2 linked regions of the Homo sapiens genome follow. The protein of the gene in region 1 interacts with the protein of each later gene in a biochemical or structural test. Each region holds a gene or a part of one and is shown on either strand. Other genes may lie near its edges.

Region 1 (3,500 bases):
TGGGTTGTTGAGTTAATTGATGAACTCATAGATGACATACAATTTATCTTTTTATTCTTGTGTCACTTGTGCTTTTGATGTCACATCTAGGAAGGCTTTGTCTAGCCCAAGGCCACATTTACTTCCATATTTTCTTCTAAGAGTTTGATAGTTGTAGCTGTTACATATATGTCTATGATCTAGTTTGAATAAATTTTTGTGTATGGTGTGAAGAAGAGGTCTAACCTCTTTTTTATTTTTTGCATGTAAACATCCAGTTGTCCCGGCACCATTTGTTGAAAATATGATTCTTTTCCCATTAAGTCATCTTGACACCCTTGTTGAAAATCAATTGACCATAAATGTGAGAGTTTATTTCTGAACTCTCCATTCTGTTCCATTGACCCATACGTCTTCTATAAATTCTTATAGCTAATTCTACATTAGACTTTGGTTTTTCAGATGTGGTCATCTCATTAGATTATGGTGATATGTTTGGTTACAAGTTTTATCTTCTCCTTGGCAACATTTTTTTTATTACTGCTCTTCTTTTATTCGTTTTTGTTGTTCCTTTCTCTTTTTGTGAGACAGGGTCTCACTCTGTTGCCCAGGGTGGAGTAAGTGGTGTGATCATGGCTCACTGCAGCCTCAACCTCCTGGGCTCAAGCAATCCTCCCACCTCAGCCTCCCAAGTAGTGGGACTACAGGCATGCACCATCATGCCAGGCTAACTTTTTTATTTTTTGTAGAGACAGGGTCTTGCTTTGTTGCCCAGGCTGGTCTTGAACTCCAAGCTCAAGCAATCCTCCAACCTCAGCTTCCCAAAGTGCTGGGATTACCAGTATGAGCCACTGCACCTGGCCTTGTTGTTCCTTTCTTCCTTTTATCTTGTAGTATCTTGATCCTTTTTGCTTATTATTTATCATTGAGGTGAGTTTGTTCTAAATAAACTTTTCGCAGAAAGTTTATGTAGATATATTAATATCAATGAGGCATTAGGAGTGAGTTTTAGATTAGCAGGAATTCTCTTATGAAAGGTATTGATTGTATGTGTGAGTTTTCAGCCTTTACTTCTCTCCAGCCCATCAAGATCAAAGCTGCAGAGTTGTTTACATTTCAGAATTTCTTTCCTCCCCTCCCCACCTTGCAAAACAGACTTACAGTGCAAAAATGACTTGTCAATGTGATTCTTTCTTCTGGTCCCATCTTTCCTACCTTTTGAGACTTGTGTTGAAAGGAGTCCAGTAAAACCACCGATGCTAGCTTGTATACCCTGATCCCATTGTTATAATGAATGACTGACTGTTTTTCATATCAAAGTATAATACTTGCACCTTGATAGAAGAAAGAAACAAGGCCAGGCACAGTGGTTCATGCCTGTAATCCCAGCACTTTGGGAGGCTGAAGTAGGAGGAATAATTAGACTTTGATATTAAAAATGGGGAAGATATGGCGGTATAAGATATGAGGAAGTATGTCTTCTTGGACTTTTCTGAAATCTGCCAGCCATGAGCATCCACTCTTTTTATCTTTTGATACCTGTTTTATATTAACTATACTTCTATTTTGTGGTTTCATGGCTTCAGATATCTTCCAGCTTAATTGTACTCTGTCTTTAATTATTTGCAGCAATTTCTGAAAGGAGCAAGAAGAAAGGCCAGCCCTTTCTTCACTACCTTAAAAACTGGTCATCTTTTGAAACCCCATGAAAGGCACAGTGGGTGACCATCTACATCAGGAGTGGGCAAACTATGGCCCTTGGGTAGTCTGGTCTCTGTCCGTTTTTGTAAGGTTTTATTGGAACCCATACACACACAAACTGATCATCTCTTGTTATGTGTTAAGTTTTCTTATAATTATTCTTTTCTATTTCATCCAGCTGAATTACCATTTCACCTTGTGTATGCCCTTTCCAGTCTTAAATTATAGAAGCTATGTCTTTGTGGTTTTAAATTATGGAAGCTGTGCCTTCTTGTGTTTTAGTATGGCAAGATATTTGTTCTTACTTTTCCTCTAGAATCTGCAGTGGATTACTTTCAGAAGTAGGTATTGCCTCTAAGTTTCCTGACTTCTGTTTCCTTCTCCCTGTTCTGTAGTATATTTATAGATTGCATGTTTTCTCGTCCTTAAACAAGGTACAAATATGTTCTGATCAAGGTTTGCTAGCCGAGAGGATAAGTGGCTTGCTCTTAGCCTAACTCTCTGTCTACTTAATGGATGTCGAATTCCCTTCTCAACTCAACAGCTAGTAACTAGTTCCAAGATCGGATAATAGCTTACAGAATTAATTAGTTCAGTGAAAGCCCTGGTTTGATCACAGAGGCAGGAGACTGATCTATATATTTGTAGTGCTGACTAGACCCCAACTTGGCCAGATAGCTTATACCTATGTCAGAAGTTGGAGGAGGAGATTGACAGCTGAGGTGTCTCCAAGGGAATTACAATTATTTTCATTTTCTTTGTGTCTGTAATTATGTCTCTTTTCTTACTTCAAATTTTGTATATGTGAAATTTCTTAATTTTTATTTGGTTATTTATTTTATTGACTTTTTCATCAAACAACCAACTCTAAGTTCTTGGATTGAAATTTATGAATTAATTATAATGTTTTAAATTTACCATTAGTCACACATACAATACAAAAAGATATTTTCATTACAAAATTTTAACCCAAGCCATTAAAACTAAACTCCAGCTTGGTCACCATTCCTAATACCAGGCCCCTCTCAGAGGGGAGGGTAAATAAAAGTCCATTTTGGTAACTAGTTTGACGAGAATCTCTAATTGTTTCCCTGTTTTTCTTATAATGTCTGCCTTTGAATTATCCTCTTTTTTTCAAGAGTTCCATCATATAATGTATTCCTTTTTGCTTACAGATTGACCTCCTAGAGGCATGCATCCCCCTGCTCCAGTCTGAGCTGGTTCTCTCTAGGCCTGAGGCTCAGTTATCAACTTGGGACTTTTATTTACCCTCCCTCAGGATAGGTACCTGGTTCTTGGATACCAGGTCTTACTCTTGTTTGAGATACTCCTTTATTTTGGTGGCAAACATTCCATAATCACTTCCTGATAATGGTGACATTTGAGGTAGATTTTCTGAGTCTTTATATGTTAGAATATGTTTTTATTCTCCTTTGCCACTTGATTGATAATTTGGCTGCACATAGAATGTAAGCATTCACAGGGCTTTTGGGAGCAGCTTCCCTTGAGAAGAAGGTGGATGCAGTTAAGATCTTCCCTGAAAAGACTGTGTGAAATGACAAGGCTATTGAGGTACCCAACGGGTAGCTTGGTAAAGGTGTATCTTGTCTCTTATGTTTATGCATCTACTTTACCACCATGTAATTAGCCTATTATAACTTGTTGCATTCCTTCACTCAGCTAATCTTGTTCATGGTAGAAATTAATATTGCTAGTACCATGGTAGAATTTTATATTAGCTGGATCCTAGACCTAAATGCTCCTTCCTTGTGCTTACATATTCTGCAAGTGGGTGACAGTGGATGCTAGGTATTGTGTTA
Region 2 (2,883 bases), on another chromosome or scaffold:
AGGTCTCGATCTCCTGACCTTGTGATCTGCCTGCTTTGGCCTCCCAAAGTGCTGGGATTACAGGCGTGAGCCACCTCGCCCAGCCATAAATACTCTATTCTATATTAATAAACATGGCCTATGATTGGATCTCAAACCTATAACTTTCCTTCTATCCCTTCAGAAGGCTTTTTTTTTGACACATGGTCTCACTCTGTCACCCAGGCTGGAGTGCAGTAGTGCAATCAGCTCACTGCAGCCTTGACCTCAAGCTCCAAGTGAGCCTTTCAACTCAGCCTTCGAGTAGCTGGGACTACAGCTATGCTCCACCCAACCTGACTAATTTTTATTTTTATTTCTTTTTTAGTAGAGATGGAGTCTCACTGTGTTTCTCAGGCTGGTCTCCAACTCCTGAGCTCAAGTGATTCTCCTGCTTTGGCTTCCCAAAGTGTTGGGATTTACAGGCATGAGCCACCATGCCCAGCCAGAAGGCAAGGTTTTGTCTTTGATTTTCTCTCATCTCAATCTGTAGTTTTGTTTTCCTTTACTGTCCTGTGTGAAACAGGACAGCCAGCACACCTCTGGACAGCCCCAAGACATAAAGAAGCAGCAGGAAGTTCTCAAGCCTCCTGCACGGGGGCACAAGTGTAAATGGAAATTCCATTGTCATTTTTGGTGGGGGCTCAGCGATGTCCCTAAAATGAATCTAAACCCAAGCACTATATACTGTCAAATAAACTAGGTATGAGAATTATGAAGCATCTGAAGAAAAGAAAAACCTGAGATTTTTACCTTGCTATTGTATACAAACATACCTTCAAGTTCACGCTATTTTCAGCTCCAAAGAATTTATGTGCTATTCCTACAACTTCCTTCTCGATGTTTTCTTGACTGGTGCCCTTCACGTCAATGTAGTGGCAATCGGCACTGGCGAAATGGCAGGAAATTGCCTGTGCAAAGTGAACAAATTGATATTGGAGAAAAACATCCCATGAATACCAGTGACCAAGCAGGGAGTCTTTCTTTTAGAAAGTCATTTATTTCACTCAGTATTTGATTTCTAAGTGGAAAGTCAGGTCCATTGCATCCTGTGTCAATCTCTTTGTAACTAAGCCTGTTTTTGTTTCCAGCTAGAAGTTAATTGAGAAATTTCAAAAGATCGTTAACCAGATGTGACATGTATTTTTGAAAGGTATATATGGGAGAGGGAATGGAATTATGTCAGTAAGAGGTATTTAGTTTTTTTTTTTTTTAGCATTTTATTTTCCTAATGAATGAATATCCCAAAGTCTTAAGAAGGACTGCATTCCACGGCAGTTTATCTCATAAGTTAGTTACCTGGTCCAATTTGGGATGAATTGTTATTTCAGTGGCAATAGATTATGAAAAGAACTAAAAATACCTTGAGATAGAAAATAATGCAGACACCTTCTCTCAAATCAAAAGGACATTTAAAAGCCAATACCAGTGACATATATTACCCCTCTTGCTTCCTTCTGAGGGTAAGGATGAAATTGCTTGGTTCTCCCTATTTTAGAAAAAGTTATAAACAGATCTAAGCTGCAAGGCAATCGTTAAAACTTACCTTTTTTGTCACAAGTGATCACACTTGTCAGAAAGACTTTCTACTTTGCCCCAAACAACAAATTTCTAGGGAGTGGAGTCACAAACTCCATTGCCTCTGTAAGCCCTGGTGCCATACGGCACTGTAACAGAGCCCAAGGCAAAGGGAAAACACGCACCCCTATATCTGTATCTTTATGAAATTATAGTAATATTTTCCCAGAACATTAAAGTCATTAAGCCTGGGCACGGTGGCTCATGCCTGTAATTCCAGTACTCTGGGAGGCCAAGGCAGGAGGATCACTTGAGGCCAGGAGTTCAAGACTCGCCTGGGCAACATAGCAAGACCATGTCTGTACAAAAAATGAAAAAATAAAATTAGCCAGGTGTGGTCATGCATGCCTGTAGTCCCAGCTACTTGAGAGGTTGAGGTGGGAGGATGGCTTGAGCCTCAGTGTTCCAAGATGCAGTGAGCTATGATTGCACCACTGCACTCCAGCCTGGGCAAAAGAGCAAGATGCTGTCTCAAATAAATATATAAACAAATAATAAAATGTTTTAAAATAAAAGCATTAAAAAACATTGGGCCAGGCGAGATGGCTCACATCTGTCATCCTAGCATTTTGGGAGGCCAAGGTGAGACGATCACTCAAGGCCAGGAGTTCGAGACCAGATTGGCCAACCTGGGGAAACCCCATCTCTACTAAAAAATACAAAAATTAGCTGGGCATAGTGGCGTGTGCCTGTAGTCTCAGCTACTCACGAGGCTGAGGCAGGAGAATTGCTTGAACCTGGGAGGCCAAGGTTGCAGTCAGCTGAGATTGCATCACTGCAATCCAGCCTGGGCAACAGAGTGAGACTCCACCTCAAAAAAAAAAAAAAAAGAAAAAAGGAAAATTGCCAAGTCTATATATTAAAACCCACAACATGATTTGTGTCGTTGTGCCTGCACCTCGCTACTTGCACAGCTCTGAAGGTTGTGCTAGTGTGGGGTCCAATAGTGTCTTTTATTTAAACTTTTGGCATTGTGCGCAGCCAATACATTGGGTATTTTGCATTAATTTTGATTTTTTTAAATTTCGCATTAAAATGTTACTAAACTCGATTGCAGAGTCTTTTTTTGGCATCCCCTTACATTTTACCCCTGGAGAGAGTGCCCCAACTTGTCCCACCCTAATCCTGACCCTGATGAGGCTGGTGGAAATATGAATGAATGGAAGACGAAATTTGGCCCCTAACCCATGGCCTCAGGAGACAACAGTGATTTTTTCTTTTTTAGTAGAAGTGGGGTCTCGCCATGTTGCCCAGACTGGTCTAGAGCTCTTGGTCCCAAGTGATCCT

What was found.
Region 2: the proteins of F8 (region 1) and PHYH form a complex in vitro, tested with the Homo sapiens proteins (one study listed by BioGRID).

What each region holds. Positions count from the first base shown.
Region 1 is NC_000023.11:154,932,224-154,935,723, reverse strand, and holds part of F8 (coagulation factor VIII isoform a preproprotein), read left to right. Parts: intron 1-3,500. UniProt on the Homo sapiens protein: Factor VIII, along with calcium and phospholipid, acts as a cofactor for F9/factor IXa when it converts F10/factor X to the activated form, factor Xa.
Region 2 is NC_000010.11:13,280,182-13,283,064, forward strand, and holds part of PHYH (phytanoyl-CoA dioxygenase, peroxisomal isoform a precursor), read right to left. Parts: intron 930-2,883; coding exon 795-929; intron 1-794. UniProt on the Homo sapiens protein: Catalyzes the 2-hydroxylation of not only racemic phytanoyl-CoA and the isomers of 3-methylhexadecanoyl-CoA, but also a variety of other mono-branched 3-methylacyl-CoA esters (with a chain length of at least seven carbon atoms) and straight-chain acyl-CoA esters (with a chain length longer than four carbon atoms).